Regions from separate parts of the Homo sapiens genome. Here regions 2 and 3 are each linked to region 1. The links come from fine-mapping of genetic effects on gene expression. A gene starts in region 1. Each other region holds a variant in brackets. All regions are shown on one strand. Distances are between the middles of the regions.

Region 1 (4,237 bases):
CACCATGCCTGGCTGATTTTTGTATTTTTAGTAGAGACAGGGTTTCACCATGTTGTCCAGGCTGGTTTCAAACTCCTGACCTCAGGTGATCCACCCACCTCGGCGTCCCAAAGTGCTGGAATTAGAGGCGTGAGCCACCATGCCCAGCTAGATTATTGTTAACTGATCCAAAAGCCTTATTTGGATTTCACCTGAAGTCCTTTTTCTGTTTCAGGATCCAACCCAGGTTCCCATATTGCATTCAGTTGTCATGTCACTTTGGTGTCCTTTTCTCTGGAGCAGTCTCTCAGTCTCCTTGTTTTTCCTGACCTTGAAATTTTTGAAGAGTTATTCTGCAGAGCAGTGCTATCCAATAGAACTTTCAGTGATGATAGAAATGCTCTGTTTGGGCCTGACGCTGTGGCTCACACCTGTAATCCCAGAACTTTGGGAGGCTGAGGCAGGCAGATCACCTGAGGTCGGGAGTTTGAGACCAACCTGGCCAAGGTGGAGAAACCCCGTGTCTACTAAAAATGCAAAATTAGCTGGGCATGGTGGTGCATGCCTATAATCCCAGCTACTCGGGAGGCTGAGGCAGGAGAATCGCTTGAACCTGGGAGGCAGAGGTTGTGGTGAGCCGAGATCACGCCATTGTACTCCAACCTCAACAACAAGAGTGAAACTCTGTCTCAAAACAAAACAAACAAAAAAAATAGAAATGCTCTGTGTCACCGAGTATGAAGCCATTAGCTACATGAAAATAGCATTTGAAATGTGGCTCATGGGCCAGGTGCAGTGGCTCACGCCTGTAATCCCAGCACTTTGGGAGGCCAAGGTGGGTGGATCACTTGAGGTCAGGAGTTTGAGACCTGCCTGGCCCATATGGTGAAACCTCGTCTCTACTAAAAATACAAAAATTGGCCGGGCGTGGTGACATGCGCCTGTAGTCCCAGCTACTCGTGAGGCTGAGGCAGGAGAATCACTTGAACCCGGGAGGCGGAGGTTGCAGTGAGCCGAGATTGGGCCACTGCACTCCAGCCTGGGTGAAAGAGTGAGATTCTGTTTCAAAAAAAAAAAAAAAAAAAAAAAAGAGAAATGTGGCTCGTGGGTCTCAGGAACTGGCTTCTAAGTATTATTTAATTTTAATTAAAATAGCTACATGTGGCTAGTAGCCATTGTATTGGATAGGACAGCTGTCAAATGTCTCTCGTTTTGGGTTTGCTTACTGTTTCCCTATGATTAGTTTCAGATCATGAGCTTTTGATAGGAATACCATAAGCATGTTGTTGTGTTCTTCTTTGTCTAAATCTTTATAAAAGCTGTTGATAGGTGGCAGGGAACCACCTAGTCAGGCAGTGGGATTGTTTGAATGCTCTTTGAGGTCCAGCAAAGACAGGAGTGATAGCTGCACTTGGAAGCCCGCTCCTACACTTTCAATGTTCTTCCTGAAAGAATTAGATATGAAGCTGCTAGAGCTGCTCCGGTGGGGAGCAGGCAGGATTGATTCTTGAACTAATCAACATTTATGCCCTCTTGGCTAAACTAGGCAGAGCTGGTTTTATTACAGTTCAGGTGTGATTAAGCATACTTTGTAAATGCTGAAGGTTGTGAAATATTCACAGGGATATAAAGTACAGTAATAAAACCTCACTTGAGGCTGGGCGTAGTGGCTCACGCCTGTAATCCCAGCACTTTGGGAGGCCGAGGTGGGAGGATCACCTGAGGTCAGGAGTTTGAGACCAGCCTGGCCAACATGGTGAAACTCCGTCTCTACTAAAAATACAAAAATTAGCCGGGCGCAGTGGCATGTGCCTGTAATCTCAGCTACTTGGGAGGCTGAGGCAGGAGAATTGCTTGAACCCAGGAGGTGGAGGTTGCAGTGAGCCGAGATCGCGCCATTGTACTCCAGCCTGGGCGACAGAGCATGACTCTGTCTCAAAAAAAAAAAAAAAAAAAAAGAATAGAAGACCCTGTGCCTGGAAGATCGTAGGTGCTCAGTAAGTGCTGGCCTCTGCCCCAGAAGGGGAAGGGCGAGGCAGATGGCAGGAACTGCGGGAGGTACCTGTCCCAGGCCCTTGGGCGTAAGAGGCCTCTCCCACGCAGCACCCAACCCATACCCAGCCTGCCCGCCAGCCAACCTTGGCGTCCCTGCCTTGCGCCTACCTACCCAGCAGTCCCCCGCCCGCTCCCACTCCCACAGGCCCAGCGTGCACGTCTCCAGGATAGGCATCCTTGCCCCTGTGACTTCAGCGGCACCCAACGTTTATTGGGCACTAACTGTATGCCAGGCCATGGGGGTGCCGGAGAGAACGACACGAAGACCCTCACCCCTCAAAGTTCCCAGGGGGAGGAGGGGCTGCTTCACTTGGGAAGCGTGGGGATGGAATTCTCAGCCCCCCGATGACTCCGAGGCCGGCCACCTGCCTGGTTTCTGGCCGGACACCGGACTTCCCCTGGAAGTTGCTCGAGACTGCGCGCCCCCAGCAAAAAATCAGGTCGGTTCTCCGAGCCCAGTCTAGCGCTTCCCGACCCGCAAACCAAGGCCCAGTGACCGTCCCCGCTGCGCAGCCGCCTGCGTCGCCAGCCAACCACGCGCGGCCGAGTAGCCCCGCCCCTCCACATGGCCAATGGCCGCGCGCTCTGCCCGCCCCGCCTCCTCGCTGCGGGAAGGGTCCTGGGCCCCGGGCGGCGGTCGCCAGGTCTCAGGGCCGGGGGTACCCGAGGTAAGATCGCTTCCCGGGCGTTGGGTCCTTTCGGCTCAGCACGCACGGACGCCTTTAGGGAAGGTGGCTGCAGCGGCAGGACGGAGTCCGCCGGGACGCCCTGGGTCTGGGGTGCGCGGGGGGCCCAGGAGGGGACAGGACGCGCGGGGATCCGGAAGAGCGGGCCCTGTCGCAAGAGTTTCGGGAACACTGAGGGCTCCAGGCGCCGCATCCAGCATCCGGGGAAAAGGGGGTAGGTGGCGCTGGGCGTCTGCTCAGGCTGGGGGAAAGGTAGGGCCAGAAGGGGACGGGCAGCGGCCGCTGACCTCCTCCTGCCGCCCGCGGGCCCAGGGTGACGCTAAGGTGGGGCCGAGCCTCGACCGGGTGCGCCTAGAGGTCGAGTGCTGCCGCCCTCCGCTGGGTCTGGACAGTTCTCGGCGGCGACACCAGCTCAAAACGGCCTCCCCGCCCTCCGCGGACCTGGGTCGCGCCCAGGAATCCGATCCAAGGCTGTGAGGCCTGTCCCTTTGGGAAGGGTGGGTGTTTATTTCCGGGATGCACTCAGAGCCTCTGGACAGTCAGGTCGGAAACTTTGCTGTATTGGGAACACTCTGTCACCTACTTCCTTCTCAGTTGGGAAGGAAGTGCCAAGAAAACATGAAACAAACCAAAAACACGAAAAAGGGATTCTCTGTATGGAAGCCGTGAAGCCTCAAAAATATCTAGGAGGACAGCCAGCGACCTGGGACCTGTGGCAGCCATGTGAAAGCAGGGTTAATGTCTGGACTAAATGTTGCTTCCACCTAAGTGCACCCTCAGCCTCCCTCCCGCCAAGTGACCTTGGGTCCTCTTTGGGCTTGAAGGCAGGTGGCTGTGTGGGTCTCGCTGCAGGGGTCTCTGTGCCCTGCAAGGTGTATGACCAGTTGCAGTGAGGCAGCAGGTTTTGGGTTCAAATCCTGTGCTAGCCTCTGGCCAGCTGTGCACCTTGGCAACACTTTCCCTGTCACGGGATTGGGGAAGGATTAACTGAAAGAACCTTAGGATGTGCCTGTCTACAATGGGCCCTCCATAAATGTGAACAAATGTGGGCTTCCTTTCCTTTTGTTTGGGCCACATCATCCCTTCCCCTCCATCTGTGGCTGAAGCTGGAATGCAGAAGAGTGCCTCATCTGACTGCCTTCTGGTACCTGGCTGATGCCATGAGAAAGGAAGGAGAAAGGGGTCTTTTTTTTTTTGAAATGGAGTCTCACTCTCTTGCCCAGGCTGGAGCGCAGTGGTCCAATCTTGGCTCACTGCAACCTCTGCCTCCTGGGTCTAGAGATTCTCCTGCCTCAGCCTCCTGAGTAGCTGGGACTACAGGTGTGTGCCACCATGCCTGGCTAATTTTTGCATTTTTAGTAGAGACGGGGTTTCACCATGTTGGCCAGGCTGGTCTCAAACTCCTGACCTCAAGTGATCTGCCTGCCTCGGCCTCCCAAAGTGCTGGGATTCCAGGCGTGAGCCACCGCGCCCGGCCGAGAAAGGGATCTATTAACTCCCATAGAGTTGTTCTTTGC
Region 2 (4,237 bases), 32 kb after region 1:
TACAATAAATCTGCTATTATTACTTCTAGAACTACAGTTATAATGGTCTACAATGGCCAGATGCCTGCTTGTAATGAGAAGCTACTGCAGTGAAGATCAACAGAGTCAGGGGGCTTGTCTGTGACCTCTCCTCCTTTTCCCTCCTGCCTTCTCCCTGGGGATGGGTGGGTTTCTACTTAAAGACAAGCTCCCAGCTCTCAGACAGAGAATGTATGAGAGCAAAACAGAAGTCACAGTCCTTTGGTACTTAATCTTGAAAGTGACATCCCAGCAGTTTTTTTTTTTTTTTTTTTTTTTTAAGACAAGGGCATGCTCTATCGCCCAGGTTGGAGTAGAGTGGAGTAGAATGTCTCACTGCAGCCTCAAACTCCTGGGCTCAAGCAATCCTCCCACCTCAGCCTCCTGAGTTGCTGGGACCAGAGGCACACGCTACCATGCCTGGCTAACTTTCATGATTTTTAGTAGAGATGCGGTCTCACTGTGTTGCCTATGTTAGTCTCAGACTGCTGGGCTCAAGTGATCCTCCTGGCTCAGCCTCCCAAAGTGCTAGGATTACAGGCAGGAGCCTCTGCATCCACTCCCATCACTTCTGTAAATTGCAGTCAAGGGGCAATTTACCCAGAAGTAGGAACCACTGGAAGCACCATTATAGCAGCTGCCTCTTCAGGAGGGGAATTTGATTCTGTCCTACAAAATGACATATGCATGTGTTTTTTGACCCAGCAATTCCATTTCTAGTAGTCTAAGCCAAAGATAACATTGGCAAAAATAAAGATATATGTCCAAGGCTAGTCATTATAGCCCACTGTGTAAATAGCAAAAGACTGGAAATAACTCAGACAATGTCCATCTACAGAACATTGGCAATAAACCAAGGTATATCTACATTGGAGTGCTATGCAGCTGTGAATAGAAATGAGTATCTCTATACTGCTATGGAGTGAACTCCATGATGTTTTGCTAAGAGGAAAAAAAAAGTGGAAAACTGTATATATAATATAGAATCTTTGGGCTGGGTGGTGGCTCATGCCTGTAATCCCAGCACTTTGGGAGGCCGGGGCAGGTGGATTATGTCAGGAGATCGACACCATCCTGGCCAACATGGGGAAACCCCGTCTCTACTAAAAATACAAAAAAATTAGCTGGCCATGGTGGTACGCGCCTGTAGTCCCAGCTACTCGGGAGGCTGAGGCAGGAGAATCGCTTGAACCTGGGAGGCAGAGGTTGCAGTGAGTCACGATCACAGCACTTCCAAAAAAAAAAAAAAAAAGACCTGACTCCAGTGGACTGAAACTCATCAAATAGGCTTTTAAAATCCATGAGTTGGCCAGGCGCGGTGGCTCACGCCTGTAATCCCAGTGCTTTGGGAGGCCAAGGCAGGTGGATCACGAGGTCAGGAGTTTGAGACCAGCCTGGCCAACATAGTGAAACCCCGTCTCTACTAAAAAAAAAAATACAGTCCGGGTGCGGTGGCTCATGCCTGTAATCCCAGCACTTTAGGAGGCTGAGGTGGGCGGATCACCAGGTCAGGAGATTGAGACCATCCTGGCTAACACGGTGAAACCCCGACTCTACTAAAAAAAAAAAAAAAAAAAAAAAAAAAATTAGCCAGGCATAGTGGCAGGTAGCCTGTAGTCCCAGCTACTCGGGAGGCTGAGGCAGGAGAATGGCGTGAACCTGGGAGGCGGAGCTTGCAGTGAGCCGACATAGCGTCACTGCACTCCAGCCTGGGCGACAGAGACTCTGCCTCAAAAAAACAAAACAAAACAAAACAAAAATAAGCTAGACGTGGTGGCACGCGCCTGTAGTCCCAGCTACTCAGGGGGCTGAGGAAGGAGAATCGCTTGAACCCGGGAGGTGGAGGTTGTGGCGAGCCGAGATCACGCCAGTGCACACCAGCCCCGGCAACAGTGTGAGACTCCGTCTCAAAAAAAAAAAAAAAAAAAAAAAAAACACCAGGCATGGTGGCGCACGCCTGTAATCCCAGCACTTTGAGAAGCCAAAGTGGGTGGATTCTATGAGCTCAGGAGTTCGAGACCACCCTGGGCAACATGGTGAAACCTCCTCTCTGCTAAAATAGAAAAAATTAGCTGGGCGTGGTGGCACTTGCCTGTAGTCCCAGTTACTCAGGAGGCTGAGGCAGGAGAATCGCTTGAACCCAGAAGGCGGAGGTTGCAGTGAGCCGAGATCGCACCACTGCACTCCAGCCTGGGCAACAGAGTGAGACCGTCT[CA/C]AAAAAAAAAAAAAAAAGCCACCAGTTCATGATAATACTAAAAAGAATTCATTGTTGACCTCTAGAGGATGCCCCAGGAAACCAACTCATTCTGAAAACTGGTCAGTAAAGGGAAAGAATTGATCCTGCCTTTTCTATTTGAGTAGTTCCAGCTCCTCTGGAGGCTGAGGTTGAGGTACTTCAGGATAACAAAGAGTTGATGAGGGAAGATTCTTTATAGAAATATTCCAGTTAGGCTGGGTGCGGTGGCTCACACCTATAATCCCAGCACTTTGGGAGGCCAGGCAGGTGGATCACTTGAGGTCAGGATTTCGAGACTAGACTGGCCAACATGTTGAAACCCCATCTCTACTAAAAATACAAAAGAAAAGTAGCTGGGTGTCGTGGTGCACAGCCGTAATCCCAGCTACTCGGGAAGCCGGGGCAGGAGAATCGCTTGAACCTGGGAGGAGGAAGTTGCGGTGAGCTGAGGTCGTGTCACTGCACTCCAGCCTGGGTGACAGAGTGAGACTCTGTCACACACACACACACACACACACACACACACACACACACAAATTCCAGTTAACCAAGCATAGAAGAAACTACCTGATTAGAAAATTACGGTAGGGGCTGTAGCCCCTAACGTAAGTAGTTAATGTTATGAATTTCTCTTCTCTTGATGAGATGAATAAAAAGTAAATAGTGAGACATGGTGGCTCACACCTGTAATGTTTTCACTTATAAGTGGGAACCACTTTGGGAGGCCAAGGTGGGAGGATCGCTTGAGGCCAGGAGTTTGAGACCAGCCTGGGCAACATAGTGAGACCCTTGTCTCTAAAAAAAAAAAAAAAAAAAAAATTAGCTGGGCGTGGTGGTGCACACCTGTACCTCCAGGTACTTGGGAGGCTGAAGTGGGAGAATTGCTTGAACCCAGGGGTTTGAGGCTGCAGTAAGCTGTGACTGCACCACTGCACTCTTGCTTGGGTGACAGGGTGAGACCCCGTCTCAAAAACAAAACAAAAATAGAAAAATAATGTTTAAAAAGGTAAATAGCACCTGTGAAGAATTCTTTTAAAGAAATCAAACCTGGGCCAGGTGCGGTGGCTCATGCCTGTAATCCCAGCACTTTGGGAGGCTGAGGCAGGCGGATCACCTGAGGTCGGGAGTTCGAGATCAGCCTGGCCAACATGGAGAAACCCATCTGTAATAAAAATACAAAATTAGCCAGGTGTGGTGGTGCATGCCTGTAATCTCAGCTACTCAGGAGGCTGAGGCAGAAGAATCGCTTGAACCTGGGAGGCGGAAGTTGTGGTGAGCTGAGATTGTGCCATTGTACTTCGGCCTGAGCAACAAGAGTGAAACTCCACCTCAAAAAAAAAAAAAAAAGGCAAAGCAATCAAATATAATATGTTAATATGTTGATCTCATTTGGAAACTAAATTGATTTTTTAAAAAATTTACTTAAGAGACTGGGTCTTGGTATGTTGCCTAGGCTGGACTCAAACTCCTTGTGTCAATCAATCCTCTCGCCTCAGCCTCCACTACAGGCTTTAAGAAATTAGCTCTAAGTCCTTATGGTAGGAAAGCTGTAACTCAGGTTACTGGATCATGGAGAGGCCAGGATTAGGTGACCTGAAAAATGTGGGCTTGGTCTCCATCATGATTGTTTAATTAAGACTCTTGGTTCCAGCTGGGCACGGTGGCTCACGCCTGTAATCTCAGCACTTTGGGAGGCCGAGGCGGGTGGATCACAAGGTCAGGAGATCGAGACCATCCTGGCTAACACGGTGAAACCCTGTCTCTACTAAAAACAAACAAACAAACAAAAATTAGCTGGGCATGGTGGCGGGTGCCTGTAGTCCCAGCTACTCAGGAGGCTGAGGCAGGAGAATGGCATGAACCCAGGAGGCGGAGCTTGTATTGAGCCGAGATTGTGCCACTGCACTCCAGTTTGGGTGAAAGAGCAAGACTCCGTCTCAAAAAAAAAAAAAAAGACTCTTGGTTCCAAGTAACAGAAGACAA
Region 3 (4,237 bases), 210 kb after region 1:
TCCACTGGAAAACTTCCCTGCCAAGTTAGCGATAGACCTCAGCTAGCAAGACGGATGAGTTGAGTTTCTTCATGAAGCTACAATTCATATCCCAAACTGAAATTCTCATCTATGTCCCTGTATTAGTTCGTTTTCACACTGCTGATAAAGACATACCCGAGACTGGGAAGAAAAAGGTTTAATTGGACTTATAGTTCCACGTGGCTGGAGAGGCCTCAGAATCATGGCGGGAGACAAAAGGCACTTCTTACATATTGGTGGCAAGGGAAATGAGGAAAAAGCAAAAGTGGAAACCCCTGATAAACCCATCAGATCTCGTGAGACTTATTCACTATCACGAGAATAGAATGGGAAAGACTGGCCCCCATGGTTCAGTTACCTCCCCCTGGGCCCCTCCCACAACATGGGGGAATTCTGGGAGATGCAATTCAAGTTGAGATTTGGGTGGGGACACAGCCAAACCATATCAGTCCCTAAACTCACCCCTTCCACAGTCTCTCACTGTGTTTCTGGACTCGTTGCTCAGGCTAGAAACCTGGACTCCTCTCTGCTCATATTCTTCCACCAAACGATCGGCAATCTGATCATAAGTGCTTTCAAAATACCTGAACTTTTATCCCCTCCTCTGCTACCAGTCTGGTCTGGGCCACTATCACTTGTCACCTGGATTACTGCAGTATCCTTCTCTTCCTTCTCTCCAGCTTCTACCCTTGTTTCTCTTCCAACTCACTCTGCTCCTGATGTGATTCTCAACACAGCAGCCAGATTAATCCTTTAGAGGCTGAGACCATGTTCCTCCTCTGCTGGAAACCCTCCAATGTTCCAACAGCTCCCAGCCCACTCTAAGTATAAGCCACAGTCCTTACAATGTCTGTGAGGCCCTAGGTGATCTCCATCATACTTCCCTCCTATCATCTCCCTACTTTCTCCTCTTTGGTCACTCTGTGCATGTCCCTTTAATATGCTAAAGTTGCCCTTGCCTCTCAGCCTTTGCACTGGCTGTTACCCTGAATGGAATGCTCTTCCCTTTGATATCCACGTGGCTCCCTCCTTTACTTTCCTTCAGGCCTATCGACTTCACCAGCTCTATCTGTCTCTACAGTACTTACCACCATCTGACACATTCTATTTACTGGTTTATATGTTGTCATCGGTCTGTCTGTCTGTGTTGCTTATCAGCATGTCAAGCACACAGTTCAGGGACTTCGCTTAGTATGCACTTGTATCCCTAGTGCTCAGAACAGCAGGGGCCTCGTCATAGGCACTCAAATAAGAGACACAGTGGGGCCTAGGAACACCTAAAATGGAGAATCAAATCTGGCAGCTTCCAACCTTAGCTCACTAGTTGGGTGTTGTGTGTATTAAGGGGCTGCTAAGAGCATCCTTTGGGGATCTCTGTCTCCTCAGAGATTTAGGTGACTGCTATGATTTGAATACCTCCTCCAAAATTCACTTTGAAACTTAATCCTCGGCCGGGCATGGTGGCTCACATCTGTAATCCCATCACTTTGGGAGGCTGAGGCGGGTGAATCACGAGGTCAAGAGATTGAGACCATCCTGGTCAACATGGTGAAACCCCCTTTCTACTAAAAATACAAAAATTAGCTGGGCATGGTGGCGCGCTCCTGTAGTCCCAGCTACTTGGGAGGCTGAGGCAGGAGAATTGCTTGAACCCTGGAGGTGGAGGTTGCAGTAAGCCGAGATGGCGCCACGGCACTCCACTCTGGCAACAGAGCAAGACTTCGTCTCGAAAAGAAAGAAAGAAAGAAAGAAAGAAAGAAAGAAAGAAAGAAAGATAGAAAATCCTCAATGTGGCGGTACTGAGAGGTGGGACCTTTAAGAGGGATTAGGTCATGAGGGATCTGCTCTCATGAATGGATTAATCCATTTAAGGATAAATGGCTTAATGGATTAATGAGTTATCATGGGAGTGGAACTGGTGGCTTTACAAAAAGAGGAAGGGAGACCCGAGAAACCGCATTCAGCGCCCCCAACCATGCAATGCCTTGTGCCACCTGGAGACTCTGCAGAGTCCCACCAGCAAGAAGGCCCTCACCATATGAAGTCCCTCGACTTTGGATTCTCAGCCTCCATAACTGTAAAAAATAAATTTATCTCCCTTATAAATTACTCACTTTCAAGTATTCTAAGTAACAGAAAACAGACTAAGCCTGTAACATTAGGCCAAGCCCCCAAAAGCTCCTAGTCTCACAGCCTATGTGAGTTCAGTGTAGGCTTGGGAATTGGAGAAGCCTTCAGGAAATGATGAAATCAAGCTGGGCCTGGGAGCATAGGTGGAGTTTGGGTAGGCAGGGGACAGAAGGACAGTGTGGGCTAGCTTAGGGTAATGCTGCTTAGGTGAGTTACTAGGGGCAGGCACCCCGAACAGAGTATCCGAAGGGCTGCACCCAGCAGTGACACCATCACCTCTCTCCTGTCCTGACTGGGCCGGGCTCTGGGGGAGAGGTCCCAACACTGCCCACCTCTTCTTGTTCTCCCAATATCTGTCATCA[G/A]CTCCAGTTTGCATTTCAGTTATTTTTAGATTGTTTTTTCCTTAGCAGTGAAGCAAGCCTGTGGAAGGAAACATATTCCTTCTAAAGCAAGCCTGCAGTTTCTCTGGACAGGCAAGAGTGAGGCCGCCCGCCTAAACAAAGAGAGGTCTGACGTCTGCTAGGGTGTTCTGGGACTCAGTGGGTCCACCCCTGTCTTCAGTCTCGGACCTGGCTGCTCCCAGACCATTTCAAGCCTAAGACAATGACATATCTCGCTGGGTTTTGAAAGCTGCTAGAGGGGCTTCCTAACCTCCTTGGCTGTCCTCATCATAGCTGCCTCCACTCCCTAGCCCTGCGCTCAGTGTTTTTTGCAGGGAAGTTCTTCCTTAAGTCCAAACTGTGGCTCCAAAGATTTCGTTACCAAGGGAGAGAGGGAGTTGCCACTGATGCGCAGTGCTCAAATTGGACTGGGTGGCTTGCGTGGGATGGGTCTGGGAGAAACTGTCACAGAGGTCATGGGAATGATGACAGCTGCAACACACGGTGCCCCAGAGGCTTCTCAACCACTGGTAGGTAGGACGATAAGTAGGCAGGCAGCTGGCTGCAGAGGCCTCTTACTCACCCCATATTCTGCCCTGCCTGGGTTCTGGGCTCTCCTGAGCCTCAAGGTCTCTGCCCTTTCTTTAGAGAAGAGCTGGGTCCCAACTCACAGGACTTCCTCTAAACCCTCCTGGACCTCTTCCAGAGTCATGTCTGGGTCACTCTAAGGAAGGTCCTCACTGGGGACGGCAAGCTGTCTCAGGGTTTGGCTTCTCAGTCTTCTCCCAGATCAGGGCTCTTGTCCCAGGATATGTGGGGTTGGGCTGGGTTGAGCACCCCTGTCCCTTCCCATAACTTTGTTCAGGTTGTGGACTCCTTTAGCAGGCTGGTGAAGTCCATGAAACTCTTCAGAATAATGCTCTTAAATGCATAAGGTAAAATACACCAGATAACAAAGGAAACCAATTGCACTAAAATGCAGATATTAACATATTTTAATATTTATAAGATCCAGCAATCCCACTACTGGGTATATATCCAAAGGAAATGAAATCAAGGTGGAAGGACAGCTGCACTTCCATGTTTATTGCAGCACTATTCACAATATCCAAGCTATGAAACCAATCTAAGTGTCCATCAATGAATGGATAAAGGAAATGTGGTTTATATACAAAATGCAATACTATTCAGTCATAAAAAGAAGGAAACCCTGTCATTTGTGACAACATGCATGAACCTGGAGGACATTATGCTAAGCAAAGTGAACCAGACACAGAAAGACAAATACCACATGATCTCACTAATGTGGAATTTTTGAAAAAGTTGATATCATGGAAGCAGAGAGTAGAACAGTGCTTACCAGAGACTTGAGAAAGGAGCGGAGAAGGGAGGATGGGGAGAGGTTGGTCAATGGGTACAAAGTGACAATTAGATTGGAGGAATAAGTTCTGGTGTTTTATTGCATCGTGGGGTGATGACGGTTAACGGTAAGTTATTGTATGTTACTAAATAGCTGGAAGAGAGTCTTCTGAGTATTCTCACCACAAAGAAATGATAAACGCCTGAGGTGACGAATATGCCAAACATCCTGATTGGGTCATGCATTGAAACATCAAATTGTATCCCATAAATATGAGTAGTTACAAGATGTCATGAGGTGGTGTATTTGTTAATTAGCTACGTTTAACCATTGCACAATATATATT

What was found. PIP is the estimated chance that this variant, and not a neighbour inherited with it, causes the effect. A credible set is the group of variants that fine-mapping cannot tell apart.
Region 2: its variant is the best candidate, but not a certain one, in a credible set for the expression of MAVS in whole blood (INTERVAL, PIP 0.80).
Region 3: its variant is the best candidate, but not a certain one, in a credible set for the expression of MAVS in whole blood (TOPMed, PIP 0.82).

What each region holds. Positions count from the first base shown.
Region 1 is chr20:3,844,202-3,848,438 of GRCh38, forward strand. MAVS (mitochondrial antiviral signaling protein) reads left to right here and starts at 2,633. Exons shown (of 7, transcript NM_020746.5): 1 at 2,633-2,702. RefSeq lists an enhancer at 549-688 and silencers at 2,050-2,099, 2,530-2,909.
Region 2 is chr20:3,876,088-3,880,324 of GRCh38, forward strand. MAVS (mitochondrial antiviral signaling protein) reads left to right here. Exons shown (of 7, transcript NM_020746.5): 7 at 1-31. Among named protein-coding and RNA genes, the nearest start is that of PANK2-AS1, 11 kb to the right of the region's middle. The variant CA/C (reference allele first, on the strand shown) is at 2,233.
Region 3 is chr20:4,049,640-4,053,876 of GRCh38, forward strand. No RefSeq gene overlaps it. Among named protein-coding and RNA genes, the nearest start is that of RNF24, 36 kb to the left of the region's middle. The variant G/A (reference allele first, on the strand shown) is at 2,514.